2 separate regions of the Homo sapiens genome follow, and region 2 is linked to region 1. The links come from fine-mapping of genetic effects on gene expression. A gene starts in region 1. The other region holds a variant in brackets. All regions are shown on one strand. Distances are between the middles of the regions. Region 1 holds the start of AMPD3 (adenosine monophosphate deaminase 3). Region 2 overlaps AMPD3 (adenosine monophosphate deaminase 3).

Region 1 (9,706 bases):
CCCTGCCTCTGCGGTGGCCCGAGCCCCAGCGGCCTCAGGTGAGCGGGCAGCATCCCGATTCCCTGGCGGCCTAGAATGGAATCGCAAGGTTTAGAGAAATTAAGGGACCTGGGACTTGCCACCCTGGGCAAAGTTCCTAGGTGCTTGAGGACTGGCTGGATGTGGACAGCTGAGGTGGACTTCTACCTGGAGGCGAGGGATGCACTGGATGATAGGGTGATGAGGTCGTTTGAGGCCTTCATCCTTACCTCTTTGGCTCTCTCCCGGCAAGGGAGGTGTACAGCCTTGGGCTCTGGCAGTCTGCTTTCTGCCCTTGATCTTCTGGTAGCTGCTTTGCCAGCAGAGCTGCTAATGGCTGTTGTAGGCTGGCAGAGGTCCCTGGGGAGAGTTTTGAGAGGCCTTGGAGTAGGAGAGGCTTGCTAACTAGGGTATCATTTCCCCAAACTGTATGTGGCTGAAAGCTTGATGGCGACACATCAGCAAAGGAGCTGGGTGAAAGCAGGCAGCACAAGGAGGGATTTTAGCATGGTCTTGAGCCCCTGTTGGCTTTCCCTCAGGATGCAGTGACCAACATTTGGCCATCTTCATGGAAAAGCTGCCTGCAGCTGGAACCTGCAGAGGAGAAATTCTTTCCCTGGCTGTGCAGCACTAAGGCCGAGTGTTAGTGGAGCCATTGAGCCAGACAGACAGAGCCTCTGTCACTTCACACCTCTAGGAGTGTTGACAGCAGGTCTGGGGTAGTTGGCCTGGCCTGGCTGCAGCTTCATGGGGCCTGGCTTGCTCTGAGGATGATGGTATGGGGCTGCCCTCTCTAGGAATAATGACACCTGCATAGGTGGTGGCTGGGAGACTCTTTGACCTCTCAGTCCCATCCTTAGCTCAGCCTCTGTCTTCTAAGGTTCTCCTAGCTCTCAGCTAGGTCAAGAAGCTCTTTGAGAGATGAGGTTTTTTGTAGTTGTTTTTTTTTGCCTCTACACTGACTGGATCACTCTTCAAATGGCCTCAAAATCTGTCTCAGGTCTTGAAAATGTCATGGGCAGATAACATGTAGCCTTCGGGTTAACAGGGAGATACCCTTTCTCCCCTAAAGCTGCCCATTGGCCTCCATGATTCTTCCACCAAGTATAATAATCTCTTAGTTCTTCTGTATGCTGGTTGCATATCTAGGACAACAGACAATTGCTTTGGGCTTTTGATTTGTAAGGAACTGACTGGGGCATGGGAGGATGAGCTCATGGCTGGAGTCCTGGCTGTGTACAGTCACCGAGAAGTACCATTCATAGGGGAGAAGGATGTTCCTCCTCCTGATCTGGCTTCACATTTAAATATGTTTTCCTTCTTCCTGCACCCAGGTAATAGAAACTTGGGAGAGTGCCAGGCACATGGTGGTGCTCAATAAATAAGGTTGAATAAAAGGATTCAGTGTCTAGATAAAACTTCATGTTCATTTTCCTAGTTCTTCTCTCTCGTATCTGATATCATAATGATGATGACAATGATGTTGGCAGATAATGCTTATAAAACACATACTCTATGCCAGGTACCAGTCTAAACACTTCACTTATGCTCATTGTCATGGCAACCTATGAGATTGGCTTTTTATTATCCACACTTCATAGGGAATAAAACCGAGCCACAGAAAAGTTATTTAACTTGCCCAAGGTCATACAACTAAGTGGTGGAACAGGATTCAAATGCAGGGAGTCTAGCTGGAGTTTTTTTTGTTGTTGTTTGTTTGTTTGAAATGGAGTCTCACTCTGTCACCCAGGCTGGAGTGCAGTGGCACAATCTCAGCTCACTGCAACCTCCACCTCCCGGGTTCAAGCGATTCTCCTGCCTCAGCTTCCCAAGTAGCTGGGATTACAGGCGCCCGCTACCATGCCAGGCTAATTTTTGTGTTTTTAGTAGAGATGGGGTTTCCCCATGTTGGCCAGGCTGGTCTCAAAACTCCTGACCTCAAGTGGTCTGGCCGCCTCGGCCTCCCAAAGCGCTGGGATTACAGGCGTGAGCCACCACACTCAGCCTGAGTCTACGTTTTTAGCCATACACTCTACTCATTCCTGAGATTGCCATAGGTGGATTGATCTATTATAAATAGCTAGTTCACTTGTTCATTGTTTTATGCATTCATTCATTCAACAAATACTTGCTGAATGTCGACCATATTTCAGGTATGGGGATACAACTGTGAATGAGACAGGCGAGATTTGTCATGGAGCTGGTATTTAGCAAGTGAATCCCCTTTGTCCAACTCCTTGTGTGAGTCACACACACCTCACAAATGAGAAGAAAAATGAACCCCTCTATGCAAGCTCATGCCTGGCTTTTGGGGAGGAGAGTGATATCTTTCTTTTTCTTTTTCTTTTTTTTTTTCTTGAGATAAAGTCTTGCTCTGTCGCCAGGCTGGAGTGCAGTGCAGTGGTGCAATGTCAGCTCACTGCAACTTCTGCCTCCTGGGTTCAAGTGATTCCCCTGCCTCAGCCTCTCAAGTAGGTGGGACTACAGGTGCGCACCACCATGCCCAGCTAATTTTTTGTGTTTTAGTAGAGATGGGGTTTCACCACGTTGGCTAGGATGGTCTCAATCTCCTGACCTTGTGATCCACCTGCCTCGGGCTCCCAAAGTGCTGGGATTACAGGCATGAGCCACCATGCCCGGCCGATATCTTTCTTGATGAGACATAATTTGATTCCGTCCTCTCCTGTCTTTTAGAGTTTGTAAGGGGTGCTTAAGTGATAAAAGGGGATGCAGTCTAGTCTCGGGCAGGAGAAGCGGGCCCTGTATCTGGTTATCATAAATTGTCTTGATGTTTGTTCGAAAGGGAAATAAGGCTTTGAGCTTGGGATCAGTGCTCTTCAGTCCACAGAGACATCTTGGCTGCAAGAAGCAGCAACAAGTTAGGCTCAAGGTGGAATTGTGAGGTCCTGAGAAGAGCTTGCTCTTCTGGGACAGAACTGTATTTTTCTTCTAAACTGCCCATGTTCTGGGGAGTCTTCCCGCCTTTTGGCTTCAGCAGGACCCTTGGTCATTGTTACAACCTGTGTCATCTTAGTGGAGCTGCTGCTGGTTTCTGTCTGAACCCGATGCAATGGGTCTCATACCTGTAAACTGGGCTCCAGGAAGGCAGCTTTCTCTAAGTTGGAAAATGAAGACTCAAGGTGGAGGGTGTTTCCCAAAGCCGATACCACAAGATATTAATAGGTGTTTTTTTCCTATGACAGCAGTTCTAGGATGGTCAAATAAGTGCGTCGGGTTAAACAAAGTTAAGCAGCTTTCTTTACTGCAGGACTTCTCAGGTGTTGAATTTGCTAGTAGAAACTGTGCATGAATACCCATAAGGGACTACAGGATGCAGTGTTTTCCAAGCCTTCTGACCTTTCATGTTCTGCAGACTGCACTTTGAAAAATGCTTGTTTAGACTAAGGCTAGCTGGGATCCGGTTAAAGGTGCAGAATAAAATTCCCTGAACGTGTCGGACTTAAATCCTTGGGCTGGAATCCTCCCACTGCAGTCCCCACTCTACCTCCCCTTTCCCCAAAACACTAGCAGAAAAAGTCATCTGCCCCTCCTCCTTCTGGCAGAATAGTACTAAGGGCTTGGATTTTTTTCTCATACTGTAAGTTCATTTAATTGTTTAATGAATAAATATTACCCTCCCTCTAGGTTGCTTGTAGCCTGCTGGTTGCACTGTTTATGAAACAGCTGTGAGGACAGGTGGGCCGTAATCTCTGGGTAGCTAAAGCCCAGCAGCAGCCCGAGGATCATGTGTCAACCCTGTAATACTGCTCTGTGCACACAGGAATTATGATGTGAGCTCAGTAAGACACAACCTCACGATTGGACATGCGGAGGTGACTCAGGCCCAAGTCAGGGTTACAGCTAGCCTCCCGGTAAACAACTGACCCATCCTTCCTGAGCTCTTCTCCCCAGGATTTCAACAGCACCACAGAAATAGCCATTTTGCTCATGGTTATTTCCCAGGACCACAGGATTTGCCTAAGTCACTGGGAGGCTATGTGTCTGTTCTGAGCCTTCCCACTCTCCTAAAGGGCAGATGAAGATCAGAGCTTTGCACCCTGTGATGCCATTTTAATCAACCCTGCTTGGTTTTAGAGGATTGCTCCTGTGGGTCACTTGAGGCAGGCTCCACCTTCCCCAGGAGGAGTGGCAGAGTCCAGCCAGCGCTCGGAGCTGGAGGCCCACGTGGGAGCAGTGAGCGGCTGTAAGCAGGGGAGGGTTTGGGGTGGGCTCCGGTGGGTCAGTTGGGGTGTACTCCTTTTCTGTGTGTGTGGATGGGGGTGGGGGTTCTGGTAAAGCTTATCAGGCTTCGCAGTCACCTGTGATGTGGGCTTCCTTCTGGGAAGAAAGGAAGGAGTGGGATGGGGCTGTCAGCTTTTCATCCTAGCCTGCCCCTGTCCTCTGTCCGCCTCTGTGCTGAGGCAGTTCCTGCTCCCTGAGTCTCTGTCCTTTCCTGGGAAAGGTGGAAGCAGTTCATGGTCTTTCCCTTTCAGAGGAGGAGGGGATGGAGGGGATTGTATTAGCAACTGGGATTGAAGCTCCCCCTGGCAGTTATGGGGTGCCCTTGGGAGGGCTGCTTTAGGGGGGCTTTCTGAGAAGAGGCAGGTCGGGCTGTACCTGAGACCAATCCCCTTGATAAAATGCAGCCAGGCCTGAAGCACGTTCAGAACGGAAGCAGCAAAGGTGATGATATCGCTCGTTGCTACTCAGCTTTCAGGAGGAGGCTGGGCGTTAGAGGGAGGCTGTGGCTTATCTCCTGCAGCTGGGCAGGACGGCTGAGTTTACTGTTGTAAAGAGGAAGCCGCCGCTTTAGTTTCCTCTTGTGAGGGCTGTGAAGAGGGCCAGGACACTGCATTCAGGATACCACAGCCATTTTGTTTTGGATAACTGGGATTACCTGGGGACTTCAGGGCTCTTGGAAATTTTCCACTCATATTTCATATTCACGAGAGAATTTCCAGCCCAGGCTTTTCCTGCTCTGGCTCACTGCTGCTCACAGATATGCAAAACAGAGACCTCCTACTCCAGCCGGCAGACAGGACCCAGCCAGCTGCACGCACGCACTGACTCAGCTGAGCCTCCTGGGTGGCAGGCAGCACCTCACCCGGGTGCATCACTTGAGTGGCATCTTCAGGACCAGTCATGGAGCCAGGCTCAGGTCTGTGTCGGGGCTTCTGCAAGGGGAGTCTGGCAAGAGTAGGAACCAGCTTCCTTCGTATAACGAGGGGATTTCAGTGGCACTGGGCTTCCTTTCTGGAGGGACTGTGGCACCATGAAAAGTTACTGTTTGTTGAAACTGGCAGTGTTTTAGAACTTTCTAACTTTGGGACACTTCTTCAAGTTCATCAGAGCGTGTTGCATGTAACAGTGAGATAAGCTGTATCATTGGCTGACTGATGCTGGTGAATTCACAGCTAAGCCTCCCAAGCCTGCTGGCTTCAGCTGACAAAGGGTTGGAAGCCAGGCGTGAACATGCAGCTGGAGCTGAAGCTCTGCTTGGCATCTGCAGAGTGAGCTTTCCTTGTCAGGCCTGGCCTGGCAGGTGTCTGGAGGGTCTGAGAGGAGAGACACTCTGGAGGGACGGGTTGGCAGGTGGGAGCTGTCTGCCAAGGACATCCAGAAGGCAGCAGATGTGGGGGCAGCTGCTAAGGCCTGCAGCACCCCAAGTGGGTTACTTGGTCCATACTAAGATATGGAATTAATTATTTTGTTGTGGTTGCTGTTGTTTCTTGCTTTTTTTTTTTTTTTTTTGAGAGAAGGTCTTGCTCTGTCACCCAGGCTGGAGTACGGTGGTGCCATCATGGCTCACTGCAGCCTGCACCTCCAGGACTCGAGCAATTCTCCCAACTCAGCCTTCCAAATAGCTGAGACCACAGGTGCATGCCACCACACCTGGCTGTTTTTTTTTCTATTTTTTGTAGAGATGAGGTTCTGACATATTGCACCAGGCTGATCTCGAACTCCTGGCCTCAAGCGATCCTCTTCAGCCTCCCAAATTGCTTGGATTATAGGCATGAGCCACTGCACCCGGTCTTGGAATGAATTATCTACCAACTATTTAAGACACTGGTAGTAGTTCTGCGGAAGATTTTTATGGGTTCTGTAAAACAAAAAGGGTTCTGTATGTTAATGTTACTCTATGATCCTTGATTTTAATGAGCCTTATGAATGTGAGTTGAGGGGCTGTGGAATGCAACATCTCCCAATAACTGACCACAGGACCTGTTTTACCAGCAACAGGTATCAATTTCTTATGGCATCCAGTTTGGGAAAGGTTGATTTAAGCTAAAGAGAAAGGAAGATATGTTATAGAAAGCTGTGTCCTGAAAAGTATTTTTAGTTGATTAGAGCAAGCTAAAAATGCTTTGTGCGCTGGTATGATGGCTCACACCTATAATCCTAGACCCTGGGAGGCCAAGGCAGGCGGATCACTTGAGACCAGGAGTTCAAGACCAGCCTGGCCAACATGGTGAAACCCCATCTCTACTAAAAATACAAAAATTAGCCAGGCATAGTGGTGTGTGCCTGTGGTCCCAGCTACTCGGGAGGCTGAGGTGGGAGAATCACCGGAGCCTGTGAGGTCGAGGCTGCAGTAAGCTGTGATTGTGCCACTGCACTCCAGCCTGGGCAACTGAGACCCTGTCTCTCAATCAATCAATGAATAAATGCATGCTTCATGAGCAAACATGGCAGGATCTGGCATAAGAGCCCTCAGACATCAAGGACTTCCCTCCCACCCAAATACCCATTGCCAAGGGAGCCTGGTTGGGGGTGTCTGGGTCAGGCCTGTGTGTGTCTGAGGGCATGAAGGAGGTAGGAAGGTGCTGCTGGTGGTGGATGGCTTCTGTCCAGGGTAGGAGCTAACACAGAGATAGGTCTGAATGGTGAAACTCCCTTTGGCCTGGCCTCTCAATAGTGTGGGTTAGGCTGATCTTGAACTCTTAGCCTCAAGTGATCCTTCCTCCTCAGCCTCCCAAATTGCCTGGACAACATGGCAAAACCTCATCTCTAAAAAAAAAAAAAAAAAAAAAAATTAGCCAGGTATGGTGATGCTCCCTCCCTCCCTCCCTTCGGCAATTAAGGAGGGAGCCCTAATTGCCAAAACCTGCCAGAAAAAGAAGTTTGTTTTCCTATTTTTCTCTCTTTTCATAGAGTCTTAAGTCTACTCATTTTCTTTCTATTCTCTTTGTATTTGTTAAAAATGGCATTATAATAGCATTCATCATCAAAATAAAATATCCTCTCACACACAGGCAGCCCTGCCACCTGGTCATTTTGACTGCGTGAATCTCTTGCAGGTCTTGCCCATAAAGGGATGCATTTTCCTTTCACTGTAAATAAAGCATGGGTATGGTTCTATGTATTAATTTTTTCATTTACTGTATTTTTATTTTTTTATGTGATTGCACCATCCTCATAATCATAATTCTGATTACTTAACATCTTTTTCAAGTGAGTATGCTCTAATTTAGGCATTTTAAAGCTATTTATGTAAATAATGCAGGTAAATATCCTTGTGCTTTTCATTCTTAGGATTCTTTTTTTGAAAGAAATTTGTAGAAGTAAAGTTGCTTAGTCAAATGGTATGGTGCTTTATGGCATTTGCGGCCTTTTGCCTGGGCTGTTGGGTTGCATATCTTCTTCTGAGATGCGATGTGAGGTTTTGGGATGGTGCCCTTGATTGGTGGCCTTGGAATAAGGGGGGAGGTGAGGATCCAGTTTCGTTTCAGCCTGATGGAGCCTCCTGGGTCTGGTTCTTTGTGCTGTTCCAGACTTTCTCTCCCCTGTCACCTCCTTTGATGGCCTCCAGCTTCCCCCCTCTCTGCTATCAAGACATGGAAATCCCCACAGGCAGCTCTGTTCCTCTTCCTTTTTGCAGAGGCCAGGCCTCGCTGTCTTGATGTCTGCTCCCCAGACAGTTGTGTGTTGACAGGCTGTTCCCCACCAGCTCCCTCCCACTCCTCTCATCAGGGAGTGGCAGGTCCTTGGGTCTCAGAGTTAAGGGAGCCACAGACCTCACTCTGATTGCCTGTTGCTAGCCTGCTTTCTTCCTTCCTGTCTGTGTCATGACTTAGTCCCACATGCCACTCAGACTCAGAGCAGCAAGCCCTCCTCAGGCACCGGAAATCTCTCTGGTACCTAGAATTATGCCACTTAGAGCTGAGAGGGCCTTAGAGACCACTTAGTTCAATCCCTTTATCTCACAGATGAGAACATTGTGAGGCCGGAGAATGACTGTCCCAAGATGGCCTAGTGTGTTCCCCTCCCCTGTAGCTGCACTTCTCCCTGCTGGACAGCAGCAGGGCTCTGTCTCATCTCCATTCTTGTCTGTCTGGTCCACAAAACCACTTCTCTCTTTAAACCAACTTTAAAGAAACTGTGGTCATAGGTAGATGGGAAACTCCTCTTCCAGAGCTGCTCCCAACGAGGGTGGCTTGTCGAAAAGGGTGCAGTATTAATCCATTCCACAAGTGTTATGCTGGGGACTGTGAGGAGCCCCTGCCCGGACACATACGTGGACAAAGAGAAGCAGCACAGCATGGTGGGTGAGGGGACAGAGGCAGGAACCAGGTGCCTGGGTTCAGATCCCTGAGCTGAGGATCAGAGAGGAAAGGGATGAGAGAGAAAGGCTGAGAACAGCACAAATCTCTGCTGACTTATTAAAAGTGTGACCCTGGGCATGTTAGCTCTCTATGCCTTCATTTTCTCATCTGTCAAGTGGGAATAATAAGATTAACTGAGTTAATAAGTATGAAGTTCTTTGCAGAGTATATATATGTATGTATACATATATAAAATATATATTATATATAATATATATTATATATAATATATATTTTATATATATATATATATTTTATTTTTAAAATTGAGACGAGGTCTCACCCTGTCTCCCAGGCTGGAGTGCAGTAGTACGATCATAACTCACTGCAGCCTCAACCTCCCTGGCTCAAGAGATCCTCCTGCCTCAGCCTCCCTAGCAGCTGGGATTACAGGCATGCATCACCATACCTGGCTAATTCTTTAAATCTTTTTTAGGGATGAGGTTTTGCCATGTTGTCCAGGCTGGTCTCAAACTTCTGGGCTCAAGCAGTCCTCTTGCCTTGACCTCCCAAAGTGCTGGTATTACAGGCGTGAGCCACCACACCCGGCCCCAGAGTATACTTTTTTTTTTTTTTTGAGGCAGAGTCCCACTCTGTTACCCAGGTTGGAGTGAAGTGGCTCAATCTTGGCTCATTGCAACCTTCACCTCCTAGGTTTAAGCAATTCTCTTGCCTCAGCCTCCTGAGCAGCTGGGATTACAGGTGCCTGCCACCACGCCTGGCTAATTTTTTTGTATTTTTAGTAGAGACGTGGTTTTGCCATGTTGGCCAGGATGGTCTCAAACTCCTGACCTCAGGTGATCTGCCCGCCTCAGCCTCCCAAAATGCTAGGATTACAGGCGTGAGCCAATGCGCCTGGCCAGAGTGTACATATTAAGTGCTATACAAGTAATTGCAAAAAAGGAAAGAAATAAGGAAATGAAGAAAGCAAGCAAGCAAGAATGAAACCCAACCAACCAAGCAGGTGGTTGAGGCCAGTGACTGTTAGTAAGGAATCAGTATGCGAGGAGGTGGATAGAGAAAGCTTCTTTGAGGGAGTGAGTTTTCAGCTGGGTAAAGAGTGTTCTAAAACCTTTATTTTATTT
Region 2 (11,168 bases), 46 kb after region 1:
TTGAAAAATATAGATGTGCAAAGGCCTTGGGGGAACTACTACCCCCGCCTTCTTCTCATTGTGGGTTGAGGATGGATTGTCCTTTTGGTGAGCCCCAGGGTATGGGGAGAGCTGTAGTGGTCTACATTGCTGGCCTCTCCCTGGATGTCACTCAGACGGCTGCTGTCCTCTCCAGGCGGCTGGCCAGGGTGGAGCCCATGGCTCCAGGATGGGCTGGGGTATGTGGTTTAGGGAAACAGAGCTGAGTAACAGAATGTTTGGGTCACTGGGAATTTGAGGATTCATATCTCAGTCTCTTGGTCAGCCAGAATGCCACCATCCCATTCCTAGTGGCTTCTGGCTTGAGAAAGTGCTCTGATGGGCATGGGTAGGTGTGGAGCTTGCAAACCAAGGCAGAATATTGCAGACATTGCTGGGAGAGGAGGACAGAGGAGGGATCTGTTTTCTGGTCCCATCTGACTTGATTCTGGGTGTTTGATGGGGACACAGGGTGCCTGAGGAAGTGACTGGGGCTGGTCTCTGACAGGGCAGCAGGCTGTTGGATCCACCTGACAAGCGAGTCTTTGCTGTCCCCCAGTGACATATTTAGGTCAAAGAAGCTGCTGCCAAACTTTGGGAAGATGCTGGAGAACATCTTCCTGCCCCTTTTCAAGGCCACTATCAACCCCCAAGATCATCGAGAGCTTCACCTCTTCCTTAAATATGTAAGTGTGGGTGGTGCCCTAGGCAGGGCTCATAGCGGCAGAGGCAGGAATGGATTCGCTGTGAGCTGGGTCAGGCTTGCTCCTGCCCTTCACGATGGTATCTTAGGTCCTGCCACCTGTGTTCCAGGCGTGGGGTCACCAGCCCCAAGAAGCTAGATTTCTAAAAAGTCCCCTTCTCCTCAGGGGCAGCTCTGGGAGTCAGTGGGTGTGGGGGGATGGGGGTGGTGGTCTTGGGGTAGGCCTTTCCCCCAGCAGGGAAGGCAACAGTGGGCAAAGACTGGGAACTCGGTTCCTGCCAGGTGGGGCTGGAAAGGCTGGATCTAGCCCCCGGCAGCACCAAGCAGCAGCCTCAGGTTTTTTTTTCGGAAATGCAAACACTTCAATTCACCTGCTTTACCTCGCAACAGAGGCCCTCACACCATGTGTGATTAAGTACAAGCCCCTAAAGTGTATTTCCCTTCCGGATCCAGTTGTAGGAGAAGGAGAGGAGCAGTCTGGGAGAGGCTTAACCAGGGAGGGAGGCGGAGGGGGCGGGAGCCGGTCCCACCCTCCGGATGCCTGGGATCGAGGGGGTATCAGATGGTGATACAGGCCAGTGCCTGGTGATGGATGACTTTCTACAGGGAGAGGCACAGCGGGGAGCCCGAGGGCTGGGGCACGGGGAAAGAATTGAGTCTGTGTGCCCAGAAAGTGACTGGACAAGCTGAGGGACATCATCAAATTTATGTTTTAGACAAACATATTCTGGCTGTTGTGTGGAGTTGGCCCAGAAGAGAAGGTAGCTGGAGGTGGGGGCAGGGGTGAGAGTCAGGGGCCTGCCTGGAGACAGGAGGGGAGCTTGACCCAGCGGAAATAGCTCACACTCGTGCGTGCTTCTGCCTGGCCTGGTCAGACGCCACAACGTGATCTCACCTAAGCCTCACAATTACCCCGTTACTATCACCATTTTGTTGTTAACAGTAAGCGGAATTATTATGTGCTTGGTGCGTGTTGGACACGGTGTTGAGTGCTCTCCCTGGATTATCTCATTTAATCCTCACCAAAGCCCTGTGAAGCTGCTAGCTTCAATTGACACACAAGGAAATTAAAACAGATCATAAAGCTAAAAGTGGCAGAGCTGGAATGCGTTTCCAGGCAGGCTGACTCCAGCGATGTACCCTGAACCCCTATTCTATGTTGCCTCCCAAGTGAGAATAGTAAGGTGCACAGCAGCTACCAGCTTGCGTCTCTGAGGTGTGGCAGCGCAGGGACTCTGCACAAAGTGTGGGGCTTGGTGAGAAGCGGTGGGCGTACACCTGGCAGGACCTGGACAGAGACTGAAGGAGGCACTGGGGGGAGTCTAGGATGCCTCCCAGGTGCCTGGCTTTGCAGGAGCATGGATGATGTGCTGTCCGAAGGTTGCTGCCAGCAATGGAGGAAGAGCAGGTATGGGGAGGAGGAGGAAGAGCAGGAGGAGGAGACAACGCATTTTGCACCCGAGGCTGTGGGAGATGCAGTGGTGAGGCCCTGCTTCAGCTGGATAGAGCTCTGAAGAGGGGCTGAAATTATCCGCATGCCAGGCCCCAGAAAGTTCGGGTGAAGTATGGAGCTAGTGAGCACAGAGCAGAGCTCAAGGTCCTCCCTGGCCCCCCAAACCCGTCTAGGGAGTGCTTAGGGTCATAGCAGGGACCCTGTCATTTCCTTTGACACACAGGGCTCTGTGACACGGAAGATTCTGGCCAAGCTGCCTTGCTCCTCTGGGCCTTTGCTGCCCCCATAGGAACAGGAGAGGCCAGCAGACCTGGCTGGGGTCTGGGGCGTGGGCTGGGAGCCCTCCAGTTTGGGCCAGTTGTGGATTAAGGGGGACAGTCTCTTTCTCCCATCTGCTATTCAGAGGCCCCTTTGCAAAGCACTGCCGTGGCCTGGTAGCAAGCCTCCCCTGTGCGCTGAGAGCCCGTACCCTCCATGCATGTGTTCTTGGTTGGGGATGACCCCTGGGATCAGCCAGAAGGCTCCAGTGACTCAGGAGCAGCCCCCCAGGGGTCCCAGCCAAGGTAGAACTGCAGTGGAAGGGTGGGGGTTTCCTGAGGCTACTCAGGCCCATCTCAGAGGGCAGCTCCCAGTGGGGATTGGAGAGCAGAGCTGCCTCCCAGGAGCCATGGCTTAGCCCAGCAAGGACCCTCTTATCTGTCTGTGAGGCAGCTGGCGGGTTTCTCCTGGCCACACCTGGACATGCCCTAGAGTATTCTCTACCTACCGCCCCAAAGAGTGCAGACCCAGAGCCCAGAACCTGTTTTTTTTGTTTGTTTGTTTTTTGTTTTTTTTAGATGGAGTCTTGCTCTGTCACCCAGGCTGGTGCGATCTCGGCTCACTGCAACCTCCACCTCCGGGGTTCAAGTGATTCTTCTGCCTTAGCCTCCTGAGTAGCTGAGATTACAGGTGCACGCCACCATGCCCAGCTAATTTTTGTATTTTTTTTTACTAGAGACGGAGTTTCACCATGTTGGGCAGGCTGGCCTCGAACTCCTGACCTCGTGATCTGCCCGTCTCCTCCTCCCAAAGTGCTAGGATTACAGGCATGAGCCATCATGTCTGGCCAAACCTGGTTTCTTGAGCAACTTTCTTAATTGCTTTGGCCCTGGTTTGCTCAATTGTAAAATGGGGCTGGCAGCCAACCCCTCCCTCCTGGGTTGCTCTGAATATGAATTAACTGACGTGAGTAAAGTGCTTTGAGCAGGGCTTGATGAGTGATGTGTACTAGGACCCTTTTCCCTCATCGCTTGTCGCTGCTGCTGATGGCAATGGCCACTCCTCCCTGCAGGCTGGCCTCGGCATAGCAGAGGGGCAGGTGGTGGCCATGGCTGCTTTGCCCTTCACCTGGCTTGGCAGTTTCCTCCACTGTCACCACCACCACACAGGGGCTTGGCACTCTCCTGTCTCACCTCCAGAGTACCTATGGAAGCTCCGAAGGGGCAGACCTTGGTGTTGTACCCACTTTTCATCCCTGGGAGGAATATGGCCTCAGGCAGGCCAAGGGGTCCCCAGCTGAGGTGTGAACCTGAGGGGCCCAGACCCACAGGCCTCTGGCAGCTATGAGCTCTGGGAGGCTGAACCGAGGCTGAGTCCTGGTCCTGCCTTGGCCTGGTGCTCAGGACCTCTCCTGCCCAGGTGACGGGGTTTGACAGCGTGGATGATGAGTCCAAGCACAGCGACCACATGTTTTCCGACAAGAGCCCAAACCCGGACGTCTGGACCAGTGAGCAGAACCCACCCTACAGCTACTACCTGTACTACATGTATGCCAACATCATGGTGCTCAACAACCTCCGCAGGTGCGTGAGGCCTGCCCTCGCACATGCTTGGGTTCATGTGTTAGTACATGCACGCATGCACACACATGCACACACACATGCATGTGATCCTTGTGTCCGTGTGCACCTGAACCAACATGCATGTCCATGTGCCCACACACCTCAAAACACACAGCACTTTCCAGCCTGCTATATGAGGCATGTCTCCACATGATCACACACATGCAAACATGCCCACCATAACACACATGCCAGTACAGACATATGTCATGTACAGTATGCAATGCAGCCACAGTCCACACGTGTCCACACATTTATATGTACACACACCAGGGCACACTCCACGTGTACCTGTACATCCCTGAGATAATGGAAGCATAGGACATGCTATCACACATGCACGGTCACTTACTGCCACACCAACAATGTCCACACGTGCATATTTTCGTTCAGCAAATCACTGCATCTGGCATGCGATAGGCATTGCCCTGGGCACTGGACAAATAACGGGGAACAAAACAGACTAAATCCATGCATGCCCTTACAGGCAGAGGCTCCTACCAATACGCACACAGACGAGGCACACGTGGCCAGGAGTTAGCTGCCCAGGGCAGCAGGACACTGAGCCATTCCCTTCCCTACAAGTCTTGCATCCCACTTTCCCCTGCTGGGCCCTGGGGTCTCTCTAGCTCAGCCTAAACTGGTGCTAGTTGGTGGGTGTGGAGGTTTCGAATGGGGTCCTGATTGAAAGAAATGGCCTGGCAGGGTGGAGGCAGTCCTGGGCTGAGCTTTTGGAGATGGGGGCTCTGGTTCTGGCTTTGCTACTGACCTGTTCAGTGGCATGGAACATAGACTTCACTCTCCGGGCCTTGGTTTGCCCATTTCCATAACACAGAGGTCAGACTCTGTGGTTTCTCATGGCCTTCCCTGCTCTGGAGTTCTACGAATGCGGGACACAAGGCCAGGAGAGGAATTCAGGAGAGTGGCTGGAGGGCACAGCAGGGTCTCTTTCTACTGCGAGGCCCACTCTCTGCCCGTAGAGGTGATGCTTCTTGGTTCTAAGGGGCCCCAGGGCCTGGACCTCTGCATTTTAGGAGGGGTAGTTTCCAGGGTGCACTGGGTCAGCACAGCTGACCATGGGTGGTCATTCCCCCCGGAGCTGGCCCTGAGCTGTGGCTGCAGGCCCCAGGCAGAGCCAACTGGGGGG[G/T]GCCTTCCTGATTCGGAAACCCCTTCTCTTACAGGGAGCGCGGCCTGAGCACGTTCCTGTTCCGGCCGCACTGTGGGGAAGCCGGCTCCATCACCCACCTGGTGTCTGCCTTCCTCACTGCTGACAACATTTCCCACGGGCTGCTCCTCAAGAAGGTAACCAGGTCACTCTCGGGAGCCCGTCCTGAGTGACTGCCCTGCCCTGGGCTCCTGGGAGGCTCAACCAGTGAGGCCAGAAGGCTGGGCCCTCTTCTGGGCTGGGATGTCTGTCCTTATCTTGGTTTTATTTTTAATTATGAAAGTAATATAATCAAACTCATCACAATTTTGATTTTCCAAAAACTGGAGAAATGGAAAAAAGCCAGCCCTTATGCTATTACATTAATAGAAATAGCCATTATTAGCTTTTTAGTATATCTAATTTCCATCTTTTATCCACAGCATATTTTTAATGTGTTTATTATCATAATGAACACAGAATTTGGTTCCTGCCTCGTCCCTTACTGTTGTATGACAAGCATTTTTTGATGCTGCAACGTAATATCTATGCTCCTTTTTCCAAAGGCTGTTGTTGGATGAAGGGTCTGCCACTTTGTCTGTAATTGACTCAACCAGTCCACACTAGTTGGGCACAGAGTCCATCCACCTTTTCACTGGTGTACCCTTGAGCTCTGTGCATACAGTCTTCTCCGTATTTTGGATCACTTTCCATTGGCACGATGTTTGATCAAAATGCTCCCTTTCCCTGATCCCGGTGAGGTGTAACCATGGGTCACATTTTTGGGTGGGGTGGGTGCTACAGTAGAAAACCACTCTATCCTGGGCAGGTCCACCCCTCCCATCCCTTCAGGGATCATCTCCCAGGAGCTGGAGTGTTTATAGTCTCAACCTGGCTGTTTGCAGTCAAAGCAATAAAACAGCTAGAGGGGGGCATCTTCTAGACTGGGTCCGTGCCTAGGAGAAAGGAGCTGAAGGTGTAGGCTGGAGTGGGCTGCCCTTCCTGCCCTGAGCCTTGCCTCCAGTTTGGAGCAAGAATGAGCACTTCCAACAGTGGGTAGAGGCACCAGGGAGGGCTGGCATGCAATGTAGGAATGAGATGAACAGTGGGGAAGGGGAGAGTGGGTCTGAGTGTCCTGGCTTCGAGGAACTCGGGTTGAGGACTTGGGCAGACATGGTTCAGACCCCTGGTTTCCACTGGTGAATGCTTCTTCCCTTCCTTTCTCCCTTCCCTTTTCCCTTCTCCCCTCTCTGGCACTTGTCACATGAGTTCGGTGGTTCTTTTGCAGAGTCCGGTATTGCAGTATCTCTACTACCTTGCTCAGATCCCCATTGCCATGTCTCCTCTTAGCAACAACAGTTTGTTCCTCGAATATTCCAAGAACCCTCTGAGGGAATTCCTACACAAGGGACTGCATGTTTCTCTTTCCACCGATGACCCCATGCAGTTCCACTACACGAAGGTAAGGACTTTGGGGTGAGGACAGTAGTGCTTCAGTAGGCACCAGTCCTAGCCTGTCCTCCCATTTCAGGAACCTGAGCCCATGGCTTAGTTCTGCTTTTGGGGTGGGGTTGGTGGCCCAGTGAAGGCAGGAAGGAAGCCACTGTTGGGGGAAAATTGTGCCATCCAGGAGCCCTTTCTTTGGGGTTCTTGAACCCTCAAAGGCACAATTTAGTATCTTTGCCTTCCTCTATTTTCTCTTTCTTTGACATTTATGAGCTCTGTGACCTTGGTAAAGTTATTAGATTTCTGGATCAAGTTCTTCTTCATCTGTAAAATGGAGATAAAATTTTCTCTGTCCCTACCCTGTAAGGATTCATGAAGATAATGAATCAAAGGTTCTAACATAGTGTCTGCATATATTCAAAATGGTTGCTACTTTTTAAATCAATGCTATTATAATTTCTACACTTTGGGTCTCTGGGAAAATAAAAGAGGAAGCTAACAGTGGTGTCATGCATGGGGACTAGCCGCAAGTATACCCAGCATGTTTTGATGGTGTCGACAAGACCAGCCATTGCTTAACAAAAACAGAAGCACCAGAGTCTTTTAGGACAGAGGTTCTCCAACCTCTTGGTCTCTGGACCCCTTTATACTCTTAAGAATTGAAGCTTTCAAAGACCTGTTGTTTATGTGGGTTATATCTACTGATATTTACCATGTTAGAAATGAATAAGAAATTTTAAAATATTTATTATCTCATTTAAAAACCACATCAATAAACCAATGAAATGTTACATAATAATGATTTTTTTTCTGAAAAGTAACAGTTTCCCCTGCCTTTGTTTTGCATTTTTAAGCCTCTTTAATGTCTTAATGGAAGTCAGCAGGACTCTTCTAGCCACTTCTGCATTCAATTTGTTTTTAATCAAAATATGTAAAAATAGAAATCTTGCCTCATGAAAATACATAATTGGAAAAGACAAGACCTTTCAAAAGGTCTTAGGACCCTCAGGGGTCCTTGACCTGTACTTCGAGAACTATTGCTCTAGGCTACAGCGGCAGTGGGGTGGGGAAGAGGTCACAGACGGCTTGTGATGAATAGACACTTCACATCCCAGAAGGGAAGCAAAACCACAGCTCAAACCCAGATCATTCTGGGATTACACCATTTTACCACTTATCCTATGATCACTTCTCATTTTTTTTTTGATGTTCCATCTCTGCTTTTAGTACTTTACTCATCTATCTATCTATCTATCTATCTATCTATCTATTTATCTATCTATCATCTATCTATCTATTGCAAACTTAAGAAAATAGTGTGTTAAAAAGAAAAGCTAGAGGGCAAGTGCTAAATGTGGCATGACTAGAGGGCTTGTCACAGGAGAGCAGAGACTGCCATCCCTGATGACTGGCACAGGGTTTCAACATGAGGTCTCAGTGCTGGTCAATGAATAAATGTAGAGGCGTGATTTTAGATCTCTCTTTGATAACCCATGATTTTACAGAAGAAAAGATCTTAGGCTTTGAAGGTGTGATGTTTGATGATCCAGGTGCCATTTAGTGAGGAAAAGTTAAACCCGCAGTGTCTGATGTTGTTAGCTTTGGACATGTGTGAACGATTGACATGGATATCCCCCCTTCTAATCCACATGCTTTGGGGGAGGATCTAGGAAGCACTTATGGAAGAATATGCCATTGCAGCTCAAGTGTGGAAGCTGAGCACCTGCGACCTGTGTGAGATCGCCAGGAACAGCGTGCTGCAGAGCGGCCTCTCGCATCAGGTATGGAGTGTGACGGTGCTGCCTGTGTCCCTCCTGGGAAGGCTGCCTGCTGTGTGCCAGGAGCCTTCCAGGCACTGGGGATCTGTGATGAACATAGCAGGCAGGGCCTCTGAGACACTCAGGCACAGGGAGAGAAGACGCGGCAGCCTCCTGTGTTTTCATGGCTGCTTCCTCACCCTTCTCAGACCTCTACGCCTCCTTGGAGAGGCCTTCCCTGATCGCCCATTCTAAAATAGCCACACACTTGCTATTATTCTCTATCCCCTTAATCAGTTTTTCTCCATACCATTTATTCCTGCTGATGTTTAGTTATGTGTTTTTCTGTCTTTCCCTCTAGCATGTAAGCTCTGTGAGGGCAGAGGTTTGTTCAGAATTATATCCCCGGGCCCTAGATAGTCCCTGGCACATAGCAGGCGCTCAATATTTCTTGAATAGATGAACAGTATCTAGACTGAATAAAAATCTAGACTATGGGACTCAGACATCTGTCATTTTTTAAAAAGCCTGATGAGGAGCTGGCACTGAGACCCATGTTCTGATGTACGTTAGGTCCCCCGACACCTCCCTGGGTGATGTCACTGGTTGGGAAGAGGTTGCATTAGGGGCTGTGCTCGTCGGATGATGATGCAGCAGAGTTAAAGGCTTAAGATTCTTTTCATGCGCAGTGTGGTGCCTTGGATTGGCCCTCCCCAGGAACATTGTCCTTGTCAGCTCTCAGGGGCTTCTTAATTAGAGTCTTACCTCCTTCCCCTTTGCCTTTCCCATCCCCAGCAGCTGCTGCAGACCTTATCTTTCCTCTCTGATCAAGGAAAGCACAGCCAGGAATGAAGGGCTGTCTGAGGATGACTGAGGTTGTCAGGGTGACATCCTTGAGGACACAGAGGCCAGCAGGAATTTTAAGAGTTCTGTGGGGATAAGATGTCCTGACCAAAGATCTGCTTCAGGGGGACTAGTCTGACTTGCTGTGACTGATGTCAAAGCTGCCCACATGGCTATAGAAAGTGAATCAAAAGTATATAGTTTCATTTGTATTTCTCTTGGTCCACAGGAAAAGCAAAAGTTTCTGGGACAAAATTATTATAAAGAAGGACCTGAAGGAAATGATATTCGAAAGACAAATGTGGCTCAGATCCGGATGGCATTCCGATATGAGACCTTATGCAATGAGCTCAGCTTCCTGTCTGATGCTATGAAATCAGAAGAGATCACCGCCTTGACCAACTAGGTCCAGCATTTGACATGCATTTTAACTTTTTGGTTCAATTTCAAGTCTGCTGTGGCTAATAGTGGTCAAGATTCCGAACTAGGACTTTCCTCTGTGAAGAGGATGCCTCTGAAGAAATTTTAAACTGGTGATTTTGGTTGCACTGCTCACTTTAAGAGTTAACATGCTCACTTGTTAGTATTTCTGAGTAACAAGATGGTGACTTCTCCTTGGGGATCTGGGAGCTGAGCACTTGTCTATACTTGTTCCTAATTTTCCAAGTATTTCTCTTGAAACTGCCAGTGCCTGAACTGTTGGGGCCAGGATTTTCCCTGGTCAGATGCCAAGTAACATGTGGTTTTCTGCCATACTTTTCTCCATTGGCCCAGGTAGGCTAATTGGTAGTTGTTCATTTCAGCCTCTGGATGGCTGGCTGCCTTAAACACAATCAATTTCAAAGCTCCATTTCATAAAGGGGCTACTTTGAAGGAGTTAAGATGGAAGACTTCCTTCTTGACAAATTGTGTTTTTAGTGAATTTCTTAAACCGTTTTATTTAGCCCTCCTTCCCTCTTTCTAGTTGGAAGCCAAATGTACTCATGAAAACAGCCACTCCTATTCTGAGTCTTGGTTTCTTCACCTAGAAAGTGAGGGTTTGGACTAGATGAGTGGCTTTCAGGGTGTTCTGTGAATCTCCTCATGAATACTTTAGGGTAGGGGAGGGAAGGGAGTGAGTGATGCTCAGGGGCTGTCAAAGTGACTGCGTTCATCAGTTTTACACTGGGGCTGCTACATAATATTTTCATTTGAACGAAGAACTTCAAAAAGCACAGGACTAGATGATCTCTGTTCCTTTTGGCTCTAATATGCTACAACTGTAGGCCAATTATCACTTTACCAATTAAGAGTTAGGCCAGATAAGTGAAATTTAACTTAAGGGCACACAGCTAATAAGTAATAGGCCTAAACTGGATTTCCTTATTCCAAATCCTGTCTTTTCCCCACTATTCCATTAGACCCCACAAATGTTAGTTGTGTGTGTGTGTGTGTGTGTTTTTAATCACTGTAACCGGATGCATTTTTTTAAGGCAAAATTTCTCCCTTATCTACTATGATGACTTCAGAAGATACAATGGTCCCAGGGGCCAAGTAGAAAGCATTTTTAAAGATTAATCTGAATTAAGCTTTATCAGTGTACTCTTTATCTGTGTTACTAGTGCCTGGTATGTAGTAGGTGCTCAATAAATGCATATTGAATAACTAAGTGAATTTCTTTTGGCAACTTTTTAAGGACATGTGCTCTTAGTACTTAAGAGGCTGCTCAAGGACCTTCCTATCTATTTCTGTGGTCAAATTCAGACTACAGGAGGTCTTTTTGAATCATTATAGTTAGAAGAAGAATCCAGTTTCTGCCTGTGAACTTATTTGACTTTAGATTGTCTCATCTTGTGACTTTATAATGCCTGTCCCCTCCACTGGTCAATTCAGCATATGGAAGTATAAATGCAGTCTTTTTACTAGGCAGATATATATGCTATCT

The links.
Region 2: its variant is fine-mapped to the expression of AMPD3 in whole blood (INTERVAL, PIP 0.94).

The regions. Positions count from the first base shown.
Region 1 is chr11:10,451,227-10,460,932 of GRCh38, forward strand. AMPD3 (adenosine monophosphate deaminase 3) reads left to right here and starts at 4,038. Exons shown (of 15, transcript NM_001025389.2): 1 at 4,038-4,222. RefSeq lists a silencer at 1-84 and enhancers at 515-644, 4,913-4,962, 7,762-7,891.
Region 2 is chr11:10,496,235-10,507,402 of GRCh38, forward strand. It overlaps AMPD3 (adenosine monophosphate deaminase 3), which reads left to right. Exons shown (of 15, transcript NM_001025389.2): 10 at 578-704; 11 at 3,852-4,015; 12 at 5,236-5,356; 13 at 6,487-6,660; 14 at 8,315-8,425; 15 at 9,474-11,168. The coding sequence ends at 9,650. Among named protein-coding and RNA genes, the nearest start is that of MIR4485, 6.5 kb to the right of the region's middle. RefSeq lists an enhancer at 3,835-4,428. The variant G/T (reference allele first, on the strand shown) is at 5,202.